3 separate regions of the Homo sapiens genome follow, and all the other regions are linked to region 1. The links come from fine-mapping of genetic effects on gene expression. A gene starts in region 1. Each other region holds a variant in brackets. All regions are shown on one strand. Distances are between the middles of the regions.

Region 1 (8,184 bases):
GCAGTGATCATGGATTTAAAGCAGGACTTCTGGTCTATTCGTGGCCATATAATATACTTTGCCTTTGGTCTTTTGTGTCGTAATGTTAAGAAACACAGAGTTAGACTCATACCAGTTGCCATAGGAACTACAAAGCAGTTGGCTACTGTATGGACACCTACAAATAAGAAGCAAAACAGAAATCTGTTATCCCGCTAAGCACCCAGCATCCTTCTTGAGGAAATAATATATTTCATATATAAAATAGTAAGAGTCGTAGCCCTAGGGCTTCTGTTTCTGTACTCGCTCTTGGAAAGCTCAATGCCAAATTCAACTTCAGGGCTTATGGCTCTGATTTTCTATCTTATTCTAAAGACTTTTTATTTAAAAAAAAAAAGTCTTTTCGGCCGGGCGCGGTGGCTCATGCCTGTAATCCCAGCATTTTGGGAGGCCAAGGCGGGCGGATCACGAGGTCAGGAGATCGAGACCATCCTGGCTAACACGGTGAGACCCCCGTCTCTACTAAAAATACAAAAAAAAATTAGCCAGGCGTGGCGGTGGGCACCTGTAGTCCCAGCTGCTCGGGAGGCTGAGGCAGGAGAATGGCGTGAACCCGGGAGACGGAGCTTGCAGTGAGCCGAGATCGCGCCACTGCATTCCAGCCTGGGCAACAGAGCTAGACTCCGTCTCAAAAAAAAAAAAAAAAAAAAAAAAAAAAGAAGTCTTTTCAAAAGCCACTCATACTCTTTTTGGAAAGGGGCAATAATAAATGAAATGAGTCAGTGGTGTGTGTGTGTGTCCAGACAGCCAAAAGCATTATGATTAAGACGGTACATACCAGCCAGCTTTATAATGTCCAGGACCAAAGAATTGGTAATTTTGTTCAAAAGGCTAGAGCCTGCAGCTTTTGGTTGCACAGCAGAAATATCACCGGATCGTCCAATGCCATGAATGAACCTAAGCAAAAAATGGGCCAAAAACTGGACAAATACATTCAGCATTCCGAGTAATACAATGTACAAATATGCAAATGTAATAACCAAAAAAACACCAGGAGCAATATTTGGCTGTTACAGATATATGTCACAAACTATTAATGATGTGGAACTCTCCTACTTAAATTGAAATAATTTCATCAATTATGCTGTGATAGCTAGTTTCCAAAGACGGCCACCATCAATTCTTTTTCTCCCTATGCCCACATGCTACTCCCACACCAAGAGATGGAGTCTACTTCCTCTCCACTTGAATCTGGGCTGAATTTAGTAACTTGCTTGGCCAGGAAGAATCTAGCAGAAGTAACTGTGTGAAATTTTCATGCTAGGCAAACCTTCAGATGACTAAACTCTCAGCCAGTATCTGACTGCAACTACATGACAGACCCAAAGCAATACTCACCCTGCTGAGCCCAGTTAATCCAAAAAGCTATGAGAGGTAACAATAAATGTTTTAAGCCACTTAATTTTAGGGTGGTTTGTTCTGTAGCAATAGAAAACTAGAATACATGAAATATTAAATTATCTTTTTTTTTTTTTTTTTCGTTTTGAGACGGAGTCTCGCTCTGTCGCCCAGGCTGGAGTGCAGTGGCGCGATCTCGGCTCATTGCAAGCTCCACCTCCCAGGTTCCCGCCATTCTCCTGCCTCAGCCTCCCGTGTAGCTGGGACTACAGGCGCCCGCCACCACGCCCGGCTAATTTTTTTGTATTTTTAGTAGAGACGGGGTTTCACCATGTTAGCCAGGATGGTGTGGATCTCCTGACCTCGTGATCCGCCCGCCTTGGCCTCCCAAAGTGCTGAGATTACCGGCGTGAGCCACCGTGCCCGGCCAAATTATCTTTTTTCTTTACTTTTCCCCTAATTCCACACTGGGCTAAGTTCCAATGATGGTTCAAATATTGCCTTAATTTTAAAAGAACTATATGCTCCTAGAAAATCAGTGTGCAAATCTCATTTTAAATTAGACAATATTATACATTGTTTAAAGATACCTCTCAATACTCTTTAAAATAAAAAACCCTTTCGTAATTTGAGTAATTTCTAATTGACAGTCAAATATATCAGAAATTCGGTATAGGAGGATTATCGAAGAATACTAGTGCTGTACTTCCTCACCACTGAAATCTCATGTACAAAACATTTCTTACATATATTATCAACCATGTTATCAGCAAACTGTTAACTGAAATTTTCATCCAAGTTAGGCATTATCATCAGTTTTGACTGCAGTGGTTTTTACTGAAATACAAATTCTACGATGCCCAGGAAATTTTCATTATAATGTAAAAGCATGGAAGACAGGAGTTTCATTTAAAAGAGTTTACACTTCACAGAAAGGTTAGTGGACAGAGCAATGAGTGATCATATTAACTACCAATTAACTACCAATTAAATCGTTATCAGAATTGATGAAAAGCTTTCTGCAATAATGCAAAAGAAAAAGGTCACTTAATAATCTAATACACCTTTCCCTGTATCTATTGCAACAGAGGTATTTATAAAATGAGATTCAGTTTAAACACAGTTTAAAACAAAATTTAAAGTTGATAACTATAAATCATTCAAAAAAAAAAAACACTACAAATGTTAGAAAAGAAATATGGAAAGCTATAAACAACCTTAATGGATTTTGAACTCTTACAACCAGATATGTTTATTAGGGTAACCGTTCCTAAGAAAACGTATAGCCTGTGTTAGTCACCCAGAACCTGACAGGGTAACCCCCACTTAGTTTTTACTCTATTGTCTTTGAAAAGCACCTGCTGAGATAAAATTGTTTCCATCTCCCTGTTGCATTTGGCTTACATATCCATTAGAGCAGGGAAGAAGTGGTTTACAAACTGACATTTGATAATCTAATAAGATAAATACTGCTGCCATTATTTTGAACCAAAAATAAATAAACGATGTATCTCCTGTACTACTTAAAAAAAGATACCTGTAATGACGACGAGCAACCAGTGCGGATGCCACTCTCCCTTCCCTTTCTCCCACACCACAATTGCCTAAGAAATTGTTGCTGTCCATGATTGCAAGTTCATGTAAAAAGAGTTCAAGTGTACTTTCATCCCAGCCATTCTCTGGACACTTGCCCTTAAAAAAAAAAAAAAACTTATGATTATATTTAATAAAACTACCGTTCTCTAGAATACTACAGGAATACAGTTTTTCTTTTTAACGTGTATTTTGCCACGCTGCTTGTTTTCTAAAATTCAAGCATAAATTCACCACTGTATAGAGACCGCAAAGAGGCAAAACGTTTGTACATTTGATTACAATTATTTACAGATTTCGAGAAGTGATGATAAATGCATACAATGAGGTTTACTGAGATATTTAAATTTCCGTAAGTGAAACTAACTGAAAACCAATACAACACATCCCCAGTGAAGATGCTTCAAACCAGGGCGTTACGACTGGGGCGGTGGGACGTGGAGAAGGGCGGTAGTTGTCAAACTTCAGTGAAATTTTGGCCACGCGCTGTAGCTCACTCACGCCTGTAATCCGAGCACTTTGGAAGGCCAAGAATGGCCGATCACTTGAAGTCAGGAGTTTGAGATCAGCCTGGCCAACATGGTGAAACCCCATCTCTACTAAAAATACAAACATTAACCGGGTGTGGTGGCGGGCGCCTGTAGTCCCAGCTACTCGGGAGGCTGAGGCAGGCGAATGGCGTGAACCCGGGAGGCGGAGGCTGCAGTGAGCCGAGATCGTCACACTGCATTCCAGCCTGGGCGAAAGAGCGAGACTCTGTTTCAAAAAAACAAAACACAACAAAACTTTTAATGAAATTAAAATACATGAACGCTGGCAGGAGGGAGACCTGTGAAGTTCCGCGGAAAGCTCGTGGTTCGAGTTAGCATACAGTCTACAAACACCATTATGTGTTCTGAGTCGTTGAGGGTTGGTGAAAGATGGAGGTGCGAACTTTGCCCTTTCCGCGAATAAAAAAGTACACTGGGACTTTCCCTCACTTCCGCATCCCGAAGTTAGAAACAGCGGGACTCAAAACCCCGACCCCAACACCCCCTCCTAACAACACCATTTGGCTTTCACTGGCTTTGGCAAGGCTGAGAAGGCACAGACCGCAGTCGGTCAGCTAGGGCAAGCCAAGCTGAGACAGACTTGGGACTAGTCTCAAGCAGCGAAGAGCTGCCGGTGAGGCAGCACCAGCGGGGACGCCCGGCGGAGCCAGAGCCCCGGGGTCGCGGCGGCTGGGGAGGGGACCGACAGCTCGGTACCTTCTCCAGAAGCAGCCGTATGAGGTGCTCATGCGAGCGGCGGGCCTCACAGCCCTGCCGCACGTAAGCCGGCGACACCAGCCGCTCTCCCGCCGCGAAGCTCTCGCGGTTCATGACAGCGGTGGCGACAGTGGCGAATAAGCGGGAGCACTAGCTCCACACGCCAGACACACGACGGAACCAGAATGCAACTCGCCGCCTGGACGGTACGGCAGCGCCTTGGGACAAAAAACAAAACAAAACAAAACAAAACAAAAAAAACACTTCTCGTTCGTGCACATGCGCAGACCTTCTCAGATGGCGCTCCAGGAGGAAGTTGGCGTATTTGAGCATGCGCGAGGGAGTCCGCGCTTTTCGCTGACTTTTGGCAAAGGAAGGACTGAAATTAGCCCCGCCCCGCTGCGGCTGATTCGTCTAGTTAAACCCTGGTGTTCCTGACACAAACTTCAGGAAAGGATTTTGCACTTGTGCAGACCGGGCGAGCAGAGTAAGAAGCAGGTACGTGGGTTTTTCCAAGTTCTGTGTTTCAGTCCTGTTGGATGGTTGAGATCTGTGCAGGGTCTGTGCTTCCGCCTTATTCAAACTGTCAGATGCCAGAACCTTCGATCTTTACTTTGATACATTTCCACACTTATTACTGCCTCACAACCCCATAGGAAATAGCAGTGCCCCACTCATTTTCCCCTTGACACTACTGTTTAGCCATAGCACTTACTACTCACCACGTGACATGCCAGACGTTTGTTTATACACACACACACACACACCCATACCCATGAATGTAAACTCTCTAACCTAACGGCAGGACCTCGGTTTTTGCTGCGGTGCCCCCTTCCCCCGGGCACCTAAAACAGTGCCCAGAATAAAGTAGGGCCTAAAAAAAAAGTTGATATTGAATTAATGAATTAGTTTGACCATTCTGAAACTATCCCCAAGAACATTTTGTAAAATTGATTAAGGAGGGGAAAAAAATCCAACTAGGCTTACAGCTGCTGTTATTAAGCCAGCTTGCAGTGTGGCCGACTTTCTTGTAGCTGGTTGCTACTTACTACCCCAGGAGAATGTGGCCCTTGTCACAAGACTCTTCATTCTTTTTCTGCTCTGAAGATAAAATCTAAGACATTATGAGAAGATAAGCTTTCTGTTTGCATTGCTTCTTTAGGTCCCGCATACCAACAAAACTAAGGACGCCAACTTGTCTGGAAGGCCCAATAAAAAGCTGATTCATGGAGGAATGCAATTGTCACATCCTAATGATTTCATCTCCCTTACCCCAACGAATCGATAACCCCAAATTTTCCAGCCCCTCACCCTCCACAAATCCCCTTAAAAAACTTTGCCTAGAACCCCTTGATGAAATGGATTGAAGCTTGAGAACTCTTCCTGTTTCCTGGCTTGTAACTTGTGATTATTAAAACTTTCTCTGCTGCAAGCCTGCTGTCGGAATACTGGTCTGTTTCTGCACAGCCGGCATAGGAACCTGGCAGTGCTGTAACAGTTCAACAACTTAGAGGTTCACTGCTGGAGATCCCTGCCTCCAGTTTCCTTACAATCTTCATCTTATGTGAGCCTACAGTAATTCCTGACATTGCTTTCACCTGGTGGTTTGTCCATTTGCACTGAGTCACACCCACTTGCAAGAGCTGATTGTTAAATGTTCAGTAATTTTGTGAGCTAGTTTTCAAATACAGCCACTCAAAAATTATATTACAAGCAAAAGTAAAAATACTCAAAATTTGTCACTTCCTAATTATTTTACATTTTACTATTATCTATGCTCTTCAGGTTATTTACATGCATTTTATCTATATGGTGGAAATTCAATGTAATGTTATACTACTGCACATCTTCCAACTCCTCTTTTGATGATGTCACGTTGGCCATGGTGGGAGCATTTACACCATGGAAATCAGTAAACACCGCTAATCAGGCCCTTACACTCCAACCCACTCCCCTAGAAGTCAGTTGTTCAACATGTACCAGCTCATCACTGTTTCTACTGCATGTTCCCATGGCATCCAGCTATTAATATAAATCAGTCTATTTATGGTATTTGTTGAATTGCATTTCAATTGTTAATTTTCTGTCTCAACTAGACTGTGAACTCCTGGTTCACAAGGGCTATACCAATATCTGTGTTCAAAGCACAGCACTAAATACATAATAGCTGTTTGATAAATATTTGTTGAATGACATAGAGCATTTAACTACTTTAAACAGAAAGGTAAACCACAAAACAACAAGAATTTAGCATACTTTCTAAAATGAGTATTTTTCAAACTTTTGGAAAGTTGTGTTCCTATTCTCAAAATGCAACTATTTTTGCAACTTCTTCTTTGGAAAAGCCTTCAAAGCTGCTTTGTCAATCACATGCAAAATGTGCAAAAATCCCAAAATTAATGTCATTACTGAATGGACACGCCAGGTTTTTGAGCCAGCTTCTTCTCTTACCTTATTCACCACCTTACTTCAGAAAAATGTTTGTCTGTTTCCAAAAAGTTAGTCATTGTCAAGATATGCATTCATTAAAGGTATTCAAAAGATACCAGCTTTGGAAGCAATTTCAAGAGAAGTATTCTAAAATTACTTTCATCCATTCACTCACCCAACAAGTATTTATCCATATGCCCATTTTACAGATCAGGAAAGCAAAGCTCAAGAAGTTTGAGTAATGTATTTAAGGTTATACAATGAGTGACACTAGCAGAATTTAAACCTGTGTGTTCTGGACCTATTTTAAATGATGCTATCTATTAAAAATAGTATGTAATTATTATTTTAAAATAGTAGTTTGTAACTACTATTTTAAAATAGTATGTAATTACTATTTTTAATAATAGTATGTAATTACTATTTTTAATAGGGCAACATCAGAATAACCTCATGGTCTTTACAAGATGAAGCATCATTTAAAATAGGTCCAGAACACACAGGTTTAAATTCTGCTAGGGTCACTAGTTGTATAACCTTAAATACATTACTCAAACTTCCTGAGCTTTGCTTTATCTGTAAAATGGGGATATGGAAGAGGCAGTTATGATGATTAAATGAGAGGTAATTGCTCAATGACATCTTCCCCTAGATAGACTGACTATACAAATGGACAATGGCCAGATCATATGTGATAACAGAACTCTCACCCACAACCTCTCTAGCAACTAGACTTCCAAACCACCACCTCTGCAGCAATCAGCCAAGAATGGTTAAGACTTGGGCAATGACTGCCAGCTTCCCTCTTTTATTACTCGCTTCTAACTTAAGACCAACCAGAGAAAGCTAAATATCCTCCTTAAATTACATAAGATGCCCTGTTTCTAGTTAGCCAACCTCTAGCTTCTCCTTGCCAACACCTCCAATCGGCACACCTGAATTCTTCCCTGTACCTGAATCTTTCACTATAAAGCTTTCCCACTCCCCTGCCTGCCTTTGAGACTCTTGACAAATGTAAATGATGGTGACTGACTCCCTTCTCTAGCACGCTCTGAATTTCCAGTTTTCCTGGAGACTTCACTGAGACATGGTCTGTGCTGTCCATGGCGGTGGACCTCAGCCTTTGGCCAGTTGTGGTGCCCACAGGGGCTCCTCGTGCCTTGTTGCTTATGGCTTGTCAAGTCCATGCCAACATGGTAAGTCAGTGCTGGCTTGGAACTCCTCCCTGTTTGCCTTGAGTTCCTAAGCTATTCATTTGAAGTTTGGTACTCAGATTTTGTTACTGGTTCCTATTTGCATCCTTAGTGGAATCAGGCAATTCCTTTTCATCCTTTGTGCTGTCCTTTGTACTTCTGTTTTGTATTGTGCTATCTAAAAGTGTTATTTTCCATAAGAAGGAGAATCATAGGGTAGAACATGGCCATGGGCCCTACAACCCTGTTGTTTAAGCCAGTTTCACAGACCGATGAGTTTGCAGTTCTCACCAGACTACATCCGTTTGGACAAATTTTGTTGTGGGTCACCAATAAAACTGGAT
Region 2 (8,184 bases), 56 kb after region 1:
CGGTTAATTTTAAGTAAAGGGTATTACCTTCCACAATGTAGGTGGGCCTCATCCAGTCTATTGAAAGGCCAAAAGAGCAAAAACAGGTTTCTCAGGGAGGGCATTCTGCCTCAAGACTGCAGCATCAACTCCTGCCTGAGTTTCCAGCCTGCCCTACAAATTTTGAACTTGCCCGCCCCCACAATCACATAAGCCAGTTCCTTGAAATAAATCTTTTATAGGTTGGTGTAAAAGTAACTGAGGCTTTTGCAATTACTTTTGCACCAACCTAATATATCCTATTGGTTCTGTTTCTGTACAGTCCAAGTTCAGGCATACACACAAGCCCTAAGATGGAGAGGAAGCCAGAAGGAGTGGCTTATAATTAATGAGGAGAGCAGTGTGCAGAGCCCACAAGGCCTTGTAAACCCAAATAGGATTTCAGGATTACATTCTATGTACCATAGGAAGCCATTGAAGTTTTTAGGTGAGGAAGAACATAATTGGAAATGCAAGTTGAGAAAAGTATTCTGGTTGCTCTGTAGCAAGGGTGTCCAATATTTTGGCTTCCCTGGGCCACATTGGAAGAATTGTCTTGGGCCACATATAAAATACACTAATGATAGCTGATGAGCTAAAAAAAATAAAAGCCACAAAAAACACCTAATAATGTTTTAAGAAAGTTTATGAATTTGTGTTGGGTTGCATTCAAAGGCATTCTGGGATGTGTGCAGGCTGCAGGTTGGACAAGCTTGCTCAACAGAAAAGAGATTTGTGGCAGAGGGTCTTGATGACACCTTTAGTTGCTTGTCCAATATCTTTTCCTCCCTTAGCTCTCACAGGCAAAATTATAGTTTTGTTAAGGTGTCCATCTTTTCTCCAGATAACTCATAGAAATAGGATCATATTCCCAACACTGGGGATAATTCCTGATTGGTCCAAGTCAGTACAGATGGTCTCATTCTCTTTGTTAGTAATTGATTGGTTTAGTAGTGGGCATGCGAACCTGTTTTGGCCAGTGAGCTTTGAGAGGAATATCTATTGTGGGAGACTTCTGGGGAAAGTATCCTTATTCATAGGAACGCACTAGGAGACAGTCTCTTCCTGCATCTGGATGTGGCCATGACTGGGTGTGAAGCTGCTGAAAACAGCTGCAGCCATCTTTCACCCATGAGGGTAGCAGCCTGAGACTAAAGATGACAAGCTAAGCATAGATGAGCTAAAAGATAGAAAGAACCTGGGACTCTGGTGACAATGATGAACTGCTGAGTCAGCCAGCTCCCAAACTTGCCCTATTGCTAGCCTTCCTCCTATGTGAGATAATAAATTTCCTTTAAACCAACTGGAATCAAGATTTCTGCATTTGCTGCCCATGGTATCCTAACTATTTGCAGGACTAGAGTGGAAGTGAGATTTAGTTGAGAGACAGTTGTGGTGGTCAGGACAGATATGATGATGGCTTGGACTATGGTGGTAGTGGTAGGGAGAAAGAAAAGCAGATGATTCAAGAGATATTTCAGAAGTAGAATCAATAGGGTTAAAAGTGGAGGAATGTATGGATCCATATAGATGAAGTCATTAGGAATGTTCTGTACATGTTGACAATTAATAGATTAATATGCCATTTGAAAATTTCTTATCAAACAGGAATGATTATGACTGTACTTCTGATGTTCTTTTGCATCTAATCTAATCCATTGCCCAATAATACCAACTCTGAGATTAGAAGTTAAAAATAGTATCATCACGTAAGGTTGGTTTTTAACCTCTGTCAGAGTCCAAAAGTCTAATTCAAGGAGCAGAAACTACTCTGCAGCCACTATGGAGTGTTTCCTCAAAGCCAAGAGTGACAGTTTCCACAGCCAGAGCTTCCTTGGACAAATTAAGTTTTCTTTTATCCTGAAGCCAGCTTGATAAGAAAGCTTAGCAGAAGAAAACTGTCATGTTGTTAGTGTAGCTGGTGCATCTTCTTAGGTCTGGGATGTTTAGAAACATGTACACCTTGTTCTCTCCCTATCCTGTCTCAGAGTAGGCCTGTCACACACCCAGTAGGGAAGGGACGGACCCTGCTGATGAAGCTCTGAGCACATCCAAGATGTTCTGCAGAGTTCATGGAACTACATTCAGTATCCAGTACTTCATAGGCAGATTTTATGGAAGATTTCCATTCAACAAAGAGCTTTTGTTGTCAGAATTTGGAATCATGGTCTTTTCATCCACGAAACAGCATAAATCTGGTCACATTCAGGAAGTGATTTTTCTTGTGCTCACTCTTTGTTGTGACCACTTCTTAGGTTTGCTCAGTGGTTCTCTTTCTGTGATAGTCACAGATTCTAGGAAAGTTATACTAATGACACACTGAGGCTTTTGATGAGACTGTCTATCTGATAATAACAGGTGTATGTTACTGCACTAAGTTTTTATAATGGGTTGAATAGCTTCCCCCTCAAATTCATGTCCCCTGGAAACCCAAGAACTTGACTTTATTTGGAAATAGGGTCTGTGCAGATGTAATTACTCAAGATGAGGTCATACCGTACTAAGGTGGGAGCTAAATCCAATGACTGATTTCCTTATAAGAAGAGGAGAAGACACGCAGAGATACACAGAGAGAAGACCATGTAACAACAGAGCAGAGATTGGACGGATTATCTACAAGCCAGGGAACACCAAGGATTACTGGGAGCCACCAGAAGCTGGGAAGAGGCAATGTATTAGACCATTCTCATGCTGCTGTAAAGACACTACCTGAGAGTGGGTAACTTATAAAGAAAGGAGGTTTAATTGACTCAGTTCTGCATGGCTGGGAGGCCTCAGGAAACTTAGAATCATGATGGAAGGTGAAGGGGAATCAGGCACCTTCTTCACAGGGCAGGAGGAGGTAGAAGGGATCTGCCAAACACTTTCAAACCATCATATCTCATGAGAACTCATTCAGTATCATGAGAACAGCATTGGGGAAACAGTCCCCATAATCCAATCACCTCTTACCGGGTCTCTCCCTCAACATGTGGGGATAACAATTCAAGATGAGATTTGGGTGGGGACACAGAGCCAAAGCATATCACTCTGTCCCTGGCTTCTCCCAAATCTCATGTCCTTCTCACATTTCAAAACATAATCATGCCTTCCTAACAGTCCCCCAAAGCCTTAACTCATTCCAGCATTAACCCAAAAGTCCAAGTCCAAAGTCTAATTTGACACAAAGCAAGTCCCTTCCCCCTAGCAGCCAGTAAAATCAAAAGCAAGTTGGCTACTTCCAAGATACGATGCAGGTACAGGCATTGGGTAAATGTTCCCATTCCAAATGGGAGAAATTGGCCAAAACAAAGGGGCCACAGGCTCCATACAAGTCCAAAACCTGGCTGGGCACTCATTAAATCTTAAAGCTCCAAAATAATCTTTTTTGACTCCATGTCTCACACCCAGAGCATGCTGATACAAGAGCTGGGCTCCCAAAGTCTTGGGCAGCTCTGCCCCTGTGGCTCTGCAGGGTACAGCCCCCAGGCTGGCATTGAGTGCCTGAAGCTTTTCCAGGTGCATGATACAAGATGTCAGTGGATCTACCATTCTGGGGTCTGAAGGATGGTGGCCCTCTTCTCACAGCTCCACTTGACAGTGCCCTAATGGGGACTCTGTGGGGGCTCCAACCTCACATTTCCCCTCTGCATTGCCCTAGGAGAGGCTCTCCGTGAGAGCTCCATTCCTGCAGCAGACTTTTGCCTAGACATTCAGGCATTTCCATACATCCTCTGTAATCTAGGCAGAGGTTCTCAAACCTCAAATCTGGTCTTCTGTGCACCTGCAGGCCCAACACCATGGGGAAACTGCCAAAGCTTGGGGCTTGGACCCTCTGAAGCCATGGCTCAAGCTGTACTTTGGCCCCTTTTAGCCACGGCTGGAGCTGAAGTGGCTGGAACACAGGGCACCAAGTCCTGAGGCTGCACAGAGCAGCAGGGCCCTGGGCCTGGCCTGTGAAACTATTTTTTCTTTCCTAGGCCTCTGGGTTTGTGATGGGAGGGGCTGCTGCTAAGAGGTCTGAAATGCCCTGGAGATATTTTCCCCATTGTCTTGGAGATTAACATTTGGTTCCTCATTACTTATGCAAATTTATTCAGCCAGCTTGAATTCTTCCCCAGAAAATGGGTTTTTCTTTTTCTTTTTTTTTTTTTTTTGGAGATAGAGAGTTTCACTCTTGTTGCCCAGGCTGGAGTGCAATGGTGTGATCTTGGCTCACGCAACCTCCACCTCCCAGATTCAAGTGATTCTCCTGCCTCAGCCTCCCAAGTAGCTGGGATTACAGGCATGTGCCATCACGCCCAGCTAGTTTTGTATTTTTAATAGAGATGGGGTTTCTCCGTGTTGGTCAGGCTGGTCTCGAACTCCTGACCTCAGGTGATCCATCCAGACCCAGCCAAAAATAGGTTTTTCTTTCCTACCACAAGGTCAGGCTGCAAATTTTCCAAACCTTAATGTTCTGCTTCCCTTTCAAACATAAGTTCCAATTTCAAACCATCTCTTTGTGAATACATATGACATTTCTGCATGCTTTTAGAAAAAGCCAGGTTACTTCTTGAACTCTTTTGCTTTTTAGAAATTTCTTCCACCAGATACCCTAAATAATCTCTCTCAAGTTCAAATTTCCACAGATCTTTAGTGCAAGGGCAAAATGCCACCAGTCTCTTTGCTAAAGCATAGCAAGAGTGACCTTTACTTCAGTTCCCAACAAGTTTTTTATCTCCATCTGAGACCACCTCAGCCTGGACTTCACTGTCCATATCACTGTCAGCATTTTGGTCAAAACCATTCAACAAATCTCTAGAAAGTTCCAAATATTCCCTCATCCCTCATCTTCCTGTCTTCTTCTGAGTCCTCCAAACTGTTCTAATCTCTGCTGGTTACCCAGTTCCAAAGTTGCTTCCACATTTTTAGATTATCTTTATAGCAGTACCCCACTATCCTGGTGCCAATTTTCTGTATTAGTTTGTTCTCACACTCCTGTAAAGATACACCCTGAGACTGTGTAATTTATAAAGAAAGGAG[G/GT]ATTTTTTTTTTTGGAGATGGAGTCTTGCTCTGTTGCCCAGGCTGGAGTGCAGTGGCGCAATCTTTGCTCACTGCAACCTCCATCTTCCAGGTTCAAGTGATTCTCTCGCCTCAGCCTCCCAAGTAGCTGGAGTTACAGGCACCCATCACCATGCCCAGCTAATTTTTTTTTTTGTATTTTTAGTAGAGACAGTTTCACCATGTTGGCCTGACTGATCTTGAACTCCTGACCTCAAGTGATCTGCCCACCTCGGCCTCCCAAAGTGCTGGGATTATAGGTGTGAGTCACCATGCCTGGCCAAGAAAAGAGGTTTAATTGATTCACAATTCTGCATGGCTGGGGAGGCCTCAGGAAACTTACAATCATGGTGGAAGGTAAAGGGGAAGCAAGCACGTTTTTCACAGGCAGAAGGAGAGAGAGAGTGGGGGAACTGTAAAACACTTTAAACCATCAGATCTCACTCACTGTCATGAGAACAGCATGGAAGAAAATGCCCCCATGATCCTTTCACCTCCCACCAGATCCCTCCCTCTACATGTGGGGATTACAATTCAAGATGAGATTTGGGTGGGGACACAGAGCAAACCACATCAAGCGAGGAAGGATTTTCCCCCAGAGCCTTCAGAGGGAGCATGGTCCTGCCAACACCTTGATTTCCAACTGTGAGGGCATAAATTTCTGATGCTTTAAGCCACTCAGTTTGTGGTAATTTTTATGGCAGCCCTAGGAAACTAATATAGGTTTCAAGGGTTGAGCCACAGGCCTCTCTGCAGGCCCAGATGTGTTCACTCCATTCTTTCTCTCTGCCACAGGTTTAGGGATTTGGCTTATTTTTCTTTTTTTTCAGCAACTGCCATCACCCACTCTCTCCTCTCATACAAGCCCAGCCGCAGAGTGGTACACATTGTTTCTGAGACAGGATCTCACTCTGTTGCCTAGGCTGGAGTGCGGTGGTACAATCACAGCTCACTGCAGCCTCAACCTCCCTGGACTCAAGCCATCCTCCCATCTCAGCCCCTCGAGTAGCTGGGACTACAGGTATGCACCAGTGCATCCAGCTAATTTTTTTTTTTCTTTGTAGATACAGGGTTTCACCCTGTTGCCCAGGCTGGTCTCAAACTCCTCAGCTCAAGTGATCTCCCACCTCAGCCTCTCAAAGTGCTGGAATTACAGGCGTGAGCCACTGTGTCCAGCCTATATAACTTGTTAAACCTCAGTTCCTGCACTCTAGTTCCTGAATTTGTCCAGCATATGAAATTAAATTAGCCTTGGATATTTTAGTTTTCTGTTAAAATGAAAAACAAACAAAAATTGAATTATATAATTATATAGTTATAAAATTTAAAAACTTTCTTAAAAATAATATAAAACAGCACAAGCTGTATAATACCAATGCATTATAATTAAGTACATACATTTTTAATCACCACCATAGCCTCGCATCCCATGAACCTGTTCTCATCACAGACCAGGATTTTGCCTGGCAAAGTCCCTGATACACAATAGGTGGTAGATACATGTTTAGTCCAGTGGAAAGAAAATCCTCTGCTTTAGCATTTTGGTAACCTTTCTCACAGTATGATAGATTAATAAGCCAATCAAACAGAGGACAGGTGAATTTTTTGTGCAGAGGACAAATGGAAGGTGGAGAAAACTCATATCACTTTGAATATCGTCCAAGCAATGCAGCACCTGTGGGTATGTATGAAAATCAAAGTGCTCTGAGTTGATGGGATATAACTATGTAAAAGAAAAGTAATCATGGGCTCTGGAGTTAAAGACACCTGGGTTCAAATCCCAATTCTTCTGTTTACTAGCTATGGGAAGATGAATGAGTTATTTAGCTCCTCTGAATCTCAGCTTCCTCATCTGAGAAAGATGAGGGTAAAGATGGAGGCAATATAAGTAAAGTGTGTGTTTGTTGTGTTGTAGGGTCTCTGTAAATGCTTGGTGCTGTTGTTCGTAATTTCGCTTCTTCCTGCAAATCATTTTTCATATCAGAAGAACACATTCACCTTGTTCTTGAAGGTCATTCCCAGATTATAATGATGGTAGATTGGAGATCAAATATCTGGAAGAAAACAATCTTATTTCCCCATGACCAGGGAGTACATTGAGTTGACTGGTATTCCTTTTTCTTAGAAACTTCAGGTATAAATTAACTAGGCGTAGTGGCAGGTGCCTGTAATCCCAGCTACTCGGGAGGCTGAGGCAGGAGAATCGCTTGAACCTGGGAGGTGGAAGTTGCAGTGAGCCAAAATTGTGCTATTGCACTCCAGCCTGGACAACAAGACTGAAACTCCATCTCCAAAAAAAAGAAAAGAAAAGAAAAGAAACTTCAGGTATAAATTAACTTCAGCTTTCACTAGCAAAGTATGTATAGTTGACCCTTGAACAAAGTGGGGTTTAAGGGTGCCAGCCTTCCTCACAGCCGCAAATCTGAGTATAATTTTTGACTCTCCAAAAACTCAAATAACTAACAGCCTACTGTTGACCAGAAGCCTTACCGATAACAGTCAATTAGAAAATATTTGGTATGTTATGTATCATATACTATATGTATATGTATTTTATATGTATTACTGTATTCAGTATATTCAATACTATATATATTACTGTATTCTTACAATGCAGTAAGCTAGAGAAAAGAAAGTGTTATTTAGAAGAATCATAAGGAAGATAAAATATATTTACTAATCTCTTAAGTGTAAGTGGATCATCATAAAAACCTTCATCCTCCTTGTCTTCACACTGAGTTGGCTGAGAAGGAGGAGAAACAGGAGGGGTTGATCTTGCTGTCTCCGTGTGGCAGAGGTAGAAAAAAATCCACATGTAAGTGAACTCACGCATTTCAAACCCATGTTCTTCAAAGGTCAACTGTACTTTCTGATTAAGATGTTTGATTTTTTTAAAAATGTATATTTGCTGAAAAAAGAACCTACCTAGTTTCCCATGTCTAATTGCATGAACTTAACTTTACTATTTCATTGTCTTCACTGGTATAACTTTACTATTCTAGTAGACTCTTTTCTAGTCAAATCACTTAATGTTCATTACAGAAACTTTCTGAAAGACCTACCAACTCTTCAATAAAAAGCATCAGAAGGCCAGGCACAGTGGCTCATGCCTGTAAACTCAGCACTTTGGGAGGCCACAGCAGG
Region 3 (8,184 bases), 70 kb after region 1:
CAGGTTGAGAAATAAAACACAGTGAGGCCCTGGACCACCTCTTGAAGCTTATGCTTCCCCCCTCTGGTCACAGGCACTCCTCCATCTGTGGTCACCAGAGAGCTTCAGGGAGCACTCTTCAGAGCCTTTGGTCCCGTCTGCCAGGAGCACTCTTCCTTCTTTTTTTTTTTTTTTTTTGTATAAACTGCTCTTTCTCATCCTTTAAGTCTCCACTTACATGTCATCTGCCCCTTGAAGCCTACCCTGACCATTTATTTGACCAGCAAAAAGCAACAGCTGAATTTCTGAAAGAAATGATCCAAAATTTCAGGTGGAGTTTGACTTCAGTCAAGTCCTTCCCCTACCCTTGTTTCGTCTGTATTAACTCTCTTTCCCGATCCTCCCAAATCTTGGTCCCTCTTCTATGCCCTCTTAGCAGCCCATACTTCCTCTACATAGCATTTATCTTACTGTATTGGAATCACCTGTTCATTGGTCTGTAAATCCCATCTCATCGAAATCTTCATGAAGGCAGGAACCTTGAGATCTTTGCTGCATTCTATGAATCATTCTACCAAATTGTCAAATCTGAGGGGGTCAGGTTTGACGCCTGAATTTGTATCTAGTTGTTCATAAGGGGAGGTGGCCAGGGGACCCCAGAAGCATGGCTGGCATCTGAAATGAGGATAAACTTGTGGAGGACTAAATGCTTAACTTGTGGGTTCTGTACTAACTCTGGGTGGTTAGTGCCAGAATTGAATAGCAGTGCATGAATTGGCATCAGAACACCTGTTCTGAATCTTCCAATGGCTTTTTGCCCCAAAGTGTAAACAAAGCCAAGGCTCCCAACAAAGGCTGTATTTGAAATATAGGTGTTGGCAAAGCCTCCTTAACAAAGGTTCCCTAAAGTAGCAGCAGTGTTTTCTTTCTTTTCTGGTTGAAGAAATATTCCTTTGCCTGTAATCCCAGTACTTTCGGAGTATCCCATAAGAACCAAGTGAAGAAAGTATCAGTAAGGTATACTGAAGGTGGTAGAGCCTTAGAATTTAAAACCGAGATGTCGATACAATAATACATTTTAGCATGTTTATGTGAATTGAAAAAAGTCTTCTTTGGCTGATGGATTTGATAATGAAACCTGGCTTTTCCAATTAACTTTTTGTTTTTTTCTAGAGACAGGGTCTCACTCTTGCCCAGGCTGGAGTGCACTGGCATGATCACAGTTAACTGTAACCTCTAACTCCTGGGCTCAAGCCTCCCACCTCAGTCCCTCCATAAGCTAGGACTACAGGTGTACGACACCATACCCAGCTAACTTTTAAATATTGGGTTTTTTTGTAGAGCTGGGGTCTCACTATGTTGCTCAGGCTGGTCTTTAAAACTCCGGCTTCCAGCAATCCTCTGGCCTTGGCCTCCCAAAGAGCTGGGATTATAGTCATGAGTCACCATGCCCAGCCCTGATTAACTTTTAAGTTAGATGTTTTACATACATTGAATGAGCCAAATCAGCAGTTCCAGGGCTTTGACAAAAATAAACTTAAATTTCAAGATAAAACCATTTTAACAAAAAATATTTTATTGGCAAAAGATCTATAGAAATGTTAATATTTCTATGTTCTCAACTCCAAGTTAAAAGGTGGCTTGAAATGAAAGAGTTGCAGTATAATTATTAACAATTTGGTAAGTCTTTTAAAATGCTTTTTGGTGTACTCCCCAGAAATTGAGAAACTGAATAATTCAAATGTTGGAGGACCTAAATAAGGAGTCTGATAATAAATCATAAGGTGTTTGATGCTAGAGTATTATGTGATTGATTTTTTTTTTAGCATATATCTTGGAAAAAGGTCTAAGACTTGAGTGACATTGCTATTACAAAATGTTTCCCATATCCATCTATTAATTTGAATAGGTTTTCTCAGTGTTTCCATTTGTAAAAACTAAAACTACAAATAGAGCTGATGATGAATCTTGTCTCATTTACCTATAAGTAATATTTCTCTACTAACAGATGACGTACTGAGAAAATATAGCATTATTCATTTCACTAAAAATGCATTTCCAATCAAACACACCATAGAAAACTATATTGAACTAATCTTATAACAAAAATGATAAACTTTGGACAAAATACAAAAAACAATTATTTGAAGACATTGAAAAGCAACCAAAAGCAAGCAGATAGGAATGGAAGTCATGGCTATTCTTCAAAACATGGAAATATAATGAGTAAGATTTATGTTCATACACCTTTTCACCTAAGAGCACTTCTGAATATTCACTGTGCAAGGCAGCTGGAACTCAATTAGAAAGCTACAGTTTCTTAAGGGCTTCAGAAGTTAGGGAATGGACTCTGGGACTCTCAGAACAGCTAAAAATGGAGGACAGATGTCTTGAAAACAAAGAAGTCAGAGAGGAAGAGAACTCCAAAACATGCATATATACTCTGCCCAAATCCTTGGTTGACTCCTGAACTGTGTATACATGGCGAGGCTTCAAGCAGCTCAGCAAAAAGCAGCAGTTGGATTGCTGAAAGAAATGACCAGAAATTTCAGGTGGAGTTTGACTCCAGCCAAGTTATTTACCTTCTAGAACAATCAGCATTCGTGAGAGGACTATAACAGAATTTAGAGGCTCTATAATATATTATCCACAATATTCAGTATACAATAAAAAATTAACAGATATTGCAAAGAAACAGGAAAGTTTGACGTATAACCAAGAGAAAAAGCAGTAAATAGAAACTGACTATAAGAGGACCCAGATGTAAGAATTAGCAGAGACATTTAAAAGTTATATATATACATTTTTTTCAAGGACTTTAAAAATATATGTCATAATGAGTTACAGATGGAAAATTTCAGCAGAGAAGTAGAAGCTCTAAAAAGGAACTAAATAGAAATTGTAGAACTGAAAAGTACAGGTCTGAAATTAAAAACAAACTGAGTGGGCTTAACAACTTTTTGGAAATAGTCAAAAGATTGATGAATTTAAAACAGATAAAGACAAATTATCCCAAACCTGAAGAACAGAGAGAACAATTATTGAGAAAAATGAAAACATAGGTAGAGTTCTACTGCCCTTTGGAACAATATCAAAGAGTCTAACATCCATGTAATAGAAATCTCAGAAGGAAAAGAGAATAGAGCAGAAAAGAAATATTTGAAGAAATAATGACTGAGATCACAGAACAGGCTAACTGTCTTTGGGTTGCTTTGCAATGAAATGCATGGTAAAATCA[C/T]GCTCTGTCTTGTTCCGTAGCATTTCTTTTTTGGGGATTCAGGATCTAGTATGAAAAAGGGACCCTGAAGTTTTGGGGATCTGTTTTGCCTTCCAGCTCTGTATGCTTATTAGGCCCTAGAAACTGCACGTTTTCCTAGCCCTGTTCCTCCAAGGGCTCCACCTTGAAGCCAGTAATCCAATTAAGAAACAAAAACTGGCAAATGAAAAATCCTACAACTACTGGATCTTCTGTCTGTCTGTGTAGTTATATGTGTGTTATGTGTGTAATGTTTATATATGAAAGAGCTCTAATTAATGTTTTAAAAATAACAAGTGCTTAAATCAAATATTTTGTCAGAAAAATAAAAACTGTAATGCCTTTCAGTTGATGTTGTTACTGGTGGAAGGTATCCAAGTTACCAGCAGCGAATCTGCACTAGTCAGCACCAACCTCGATCCTTGCCTCCTCAGGAGAAACAATTCCACTGAGGGGCATAAGGCAGAAAAAGAGACCAAGGTAAGTTTCAGAGCAGGAGTGGAAGCTTATTTAAAAAGGCTTTAGAACAGGAAAGAAATGAAAGTATGCTTGGAAGAGACTCAAGCAGGCACGTGGGCACGTGAAGGTCAAGTGCAGTGTTGAACCTTGATCCTAGGACTTTATAGGCTGGCTCTTTTCCCATGATTCTTTCCTTAGGGTGAGCTGCCCGCATGCACAGTGCCCTCCCTATCCTTGGGAGGTGAGCACATGCAGTGTGTTTAGGAAGTTGTACACATGCCCACCCAAGGCTTTCTTCCCTTTTCCCATGGAGTGCCACGGAAAGGTCATACTCTGCCGTTTTGTCTCTTAATGCATTTGCCTGGGAAGTTGCATCTCCCTGGCATCTGCATTCAATTAACACTTTAGTGCAATAGGTGTGGACCATCAGGAAATGGCGTCTCCCTGACCCTAGGTGCCAATGTATGACTTTTAGAGAGGCAATGTGATAACTGCTGAGCCATCACCCAACATTCCTGGTGGGTGGGAGAAGAGCCCTTTCCTGCCCTGCTCATGCTGTCTAATGGCCTGTGACAGCATGACTTTAGTAGGCTTTGGGAAATCAAGAGTTTTGAAGATTATTGGTAAAATAAAGACATTTGGTTGAAATTAGGTCAGACATTAGGTTTGCTAAATGCTTTAAGGTAATAAACTGCTTCTAAAAAAAAAAAGAATGACATTTCTCCAAATTTTGTGGAAAACATAAATCTACAGATTCAAGAAGTAAAGCAAAACCTAAGCAAGATATTTGTAAAGAAAATCATACCAAAAACATCATGGTCAAACTATTGAAAATCAAAGAACCAAAGAACCAGAGAAAATCTTAAAGGCAGCTAGAGAAAATGACATAGCACAAGTCGGGTGTGTAAGTGAAGGGTTATGATTCAAAAACAATGAAGGCAAGAGGACAATAGAATGACATATTTACAGTTGAACTTAGATGGGTAAGGATAGCAATATCAACCCAGAAGTCTGTATCCAGAGGACATAGCATTTGAAAATGATGGTAAAATAAAGACAATTTCTAATAAATTAAAACTTAAATTTATCACCAGTGTATTAGTCTGTTTTCATGCTGCAGATGAGGACATACCTGAGACTGGGCAATTTACAAAAGAAAGAGGTTTACTGGACTTACAATTTCACATGGCTGGGGAGGCCTTGCAATTATGGGGGAAGGCAAAGAGGAGAAAGTCACATCTAACGTGGATGGGAGCGGGCAAGGAGAGCTTGGGCAGGGAAACTCCTGTTTTTCAAACCATCAGATCTCATGAGACTCACTTACCATCATGAAAACAGTATTGGAAAGATCTGCCCCCATGACTCAATCACCTCCCACCTCCCACCTCCCACAACACGTGGGAATTGAAGATGAGATTTGGTGGAGACACAGCCAAGCCATATTAATCAGCAAATCTGCATTATAAAATTTGTTTTTAATTCTTCAGAGGAAAGGGAAATGATACTAGATAGAAACTCTGATCTACAAAAAGGAAGGAAGAACACCGGAAGTTGTAACTATGTGGGTAATTTCTCTAAAAAAGCAATTAAGGCAAAAATTATTCACTGTATTTAAATATTTAGGTCTAGTATACATGACAGCAATAACATAAACGATGGGGCATAAATGGAATGACACTAAGTTCTTACCTCTTATGTCAAATAGTACAATATTGGCTCTTAGTACACTGAGATAATTTAAGGATGAGTATTGAAAACCCTAGTGTAAGCACTAAAAATTAATGTAAAGAAGTATAACAGAGGCCAGGCGTGGTGGCTCATGCCTGTAATCCTAGCACTTTGGGAGGCTCAGGTGGGTGGATCACAAGGTCAGGAGATCAAGAACATCTTGGCCAACATGGTGAAACCTCGTCTCTACTAAAAATACAAAAATTAGCTGGGCATGGTGGCATGTGCCTGTAGTCCCAGTTACTCAGAAGGCTGAGGCAGGAGAATAGCTTGAACCCAGGAGACAGAGGTTGCAGTGAGCCAAGATTGCACCACTGCACTCCTACCTGGGCAGCAAGAGTGAAACTCCATCTCAAAAAAAGAAAAAAAATAAGTATAACAGAAAGTCAATGGTGGAATGAAAATGAAATAATCAGAATTATTGAATTAATCCAAACGAAGGCAGGAAAGGAGGAACAGAGGAACCGAAAAGGTTAAAGCAAATAAAACCCAAATTGCAAAATAATAGATCTAAATCCAACCACATCATTATTACATTAAATGTAAATGGACCCCAAACTCCAATTAAAAGGCATTTACAGGCCAGGTGCAGTACCTCACACCTGTAATCCCAGCACTTTGGGAGGCCGAGGCGGGTGGATCATCTGAGGTCAGGAGTTCGAGACCAGCCTGGCCAATGTGGTGAAACCCTATCTCTACTAAAAAATACAAAAATTAGCCGTGCATGGTGGCAGGCACCTGTAATTACAGCTATTCTTTCTTTAAAGCGGAGAAGGCATCAGGGAAGAGGGTTGTAGGTGGTGAAGCAAATGGTTACATTTTTGCTAGACTTTAGGTAGTGCCCAGTAACTCTATGCTATGCATAAGATAAGGTGAATATTCAAAGAAAATGGAGTAAAGGAAGTTAATTATACAGATATCTCAGGTGAAGGAATGATTGATCTTATCCTTGTTCTGCATCTGGGAAGATAAGCTTGTAACTGAATTTATCCATGTGAAATTTAACAGACTTTAGTTGTACCAGTTTGATTTAGGTTGCAGACTTAAAGTTATACAATTGACACGTCCTTGTTTTATGGAAGGATATACATCTTGAAAGGTTTAAGGGCCAGTAAAGAATTTACTATGATTAATTTGTTGAGGACAGTCATCCTGAGACTGAGATGCATAAGGCTTTTTTTTGCATTTTGAGGAGGGTCTGGCTAACATATAAAGTTTTAATACAACTATGGGAAGTAACAGCTATCCATTTGGGAAAAGCATTGTAGTGTTGAGTGACTTCAGTCTCCAGGCTTAACTCTCCCTTTGACATAACAAGTTGGGGGTGGGGGGTGGTTCTGAGATTTTTATTTTCCTTTACAGGGTCAAAGAGGAAATCATAAAGGAAATTAAAAACTATTTTCAGCTGAAGGAAAACAAAAGCACAGTAGCAGGCCAGGCAAGGTGGCTTATGCTTGTAATCCCAGAATTTTGGGATGCTGAAGCAGGACGACTGCTTGAGACCAGGAGCTCAAGACCAATCTGGGCAACAGTGAGATCCCATCTCTACAAAAAATTTAAATTTAAAAATTAACAGGATGTGGTCGTGCACACCTGCAGTTCCAGCTACTGTGTCTTCTACAGTTTAAAGCTGAGAAGATCCCTTGAGCTTAGGAGGTTGAGACTGCAGTGAGCTATGATTGTGTCACTGCACTCCAGCCTGGATAACAAAGTGAGACCCTGTCTCAAAAATAACAACCACCAAGAAAAAAAAAAAGGAGAATTCAGCTAAAGCAGTGCTTAGAGGGCAATTTATAGCCTTAAAATACTAGCATTGGAAAAGCAGAAAGATCCAGAATCAATCATCTTCTACTCTAAGCAACTAGAAAAAGAAGAGGAAATCAAAACTCAAGTGAGCAATAAAGAGCAAAATAAGGCAATGGACCAGAAAACAGAAAATCAATGGAACCAAAACATGACATTTTGAAAAGATTTAAAAATTGATAAACTTCTAGCTAGATTAGTCAGAAAAAGAAAACATACAAACTGCCACTATCAAGAATATCTGAACAAAGACAAGGTCCCTGCCCTCCTGGACGTCTACTGGAGGAAAGAAATGTCATACAATTAAATCTATAGTTACAGATTATGGTAAACTCTGAGAGAGAATTCTGTCAGGGAGAAGCCGCTTTTGGTTGCAGGAGGGCACCTCTTTGAAAATTACTCACCTTCCCGCCCTCCACTGGGAGTAAAGCGAGCTGTGCCCAGCTTCTCCCCGCGCTCACGGAAGCAGGTGGCGGCCCCACCCCACCTGACCCCTCAAAAGCCCCGCCCCCTGTTCACTCCCACGTGCCCCGCTGCCGCCGCCGCCGCCGCCACGACCCTTCTGCGCAGGCGCGGGGGTGGTGCCTGGCGGAGGCGCGAGGTGGGGCGCGGCCGGCGGCGAGGCGGGACAACCGCTGGGCGGGCGCCAAGCGTGCCCGTGCGCTGGTGAGGTGGCGTCCGTTCTACCCGGTCGCTCCCGTTCCGCGCCATGCAGAGCCCAGTCTCTGGCACCTGGCTGCTCTGATCTGGTCTCAGCGCGGAGGGAGCAGAGGGAGTCCATGGAGGATCCCTCCGAGCCCGACCGGTTGGCGTCCGCGGACGGCGGGAGCCCGGAGGAGGAGGAGGATGGGGAGCGGGAGCCGCTGCTACCGCGGATCGCCTGGGCCCACCCGCGGAGAGGCGCCCCAGGCAGCGCCGTGAGGCTGCTGGACGCTGCCGGGGAGGAGGGCGAGGCCGGC

Evidence for each region. PIP is the estimated chance that this variant, and not a neighbour inherited with it, causes the effect.
Region 2: its variant is fine-mapped to the expression of SEPSECS-DT in whole blood (INTERVAL, PIP 0.97).
Region 3: its variant is fine-mapped to the expression of SEPSECS-DT in whole blood (INTERVAL, PIP above 0.99).

What each region holds. Positions count from the first base shown.
Region 1 is chr4:25,156,039-25,164,222 of GRCh38, forward strand. It overlaps SEPSECS-DT (SEPSECS divergent transcript), which reads left to right and starts at 4,634. Exons shown (of 2, transcript NR_037934.1): 1 at 4,634-4,715. SEPSECS (Sep (O-phosphoserine) tRNA:Sec (selenocysteine) tRNA synthase) reads right to left here and starts at 4,411. Exons shown (of 11, transcript NM_016955.4): 1 at 4,218-4,411; 2 at 2,915-3,069; 3 at 818-936; 4 at 1-157. The coding sequence starts at 4,331. RefSeq lists a silencer at 4,095-4,264 and an enhancer at 4,375-4,674.
Region 2 is chr4:25,211,770-25,219,953 of GRCh38, forward strand. All of the region lies in intron 1 of LOC105374535 (a long non-coding RNA gene), which reads right to left. Among named protein-coding and RNA genes, the nearest start is that of PI4K2B, 18 kb to the right of the region's middle. The variant G/GT (reference allele first, on the strand shown) is at 5,023.
Region 3 is chr4:25,226,160-25,234,343 of GRCh38, forward strand. It overlaps PI4K2B (phosphatidylinositol 4-kinase type 2 beta), which reads left to right and starts at 7,874. Exons shown (of 10, transcript NM_018323.4): 1 at 7,874-8,184. The coding sequence starts at 8,005. LOC105374535 (a long non-coding RNA gene) reads right to left here and starts at 7,706. Exons shown (of 4, transcript XR_925490.3): 1 at 7,630-7,706. RefSeq lists silencers at 7,664-7,973, 8,074-8,184 and an enhancer at 7,700-8,184. The variant C/T (reference allele first, on the strand shown) is at 3,218.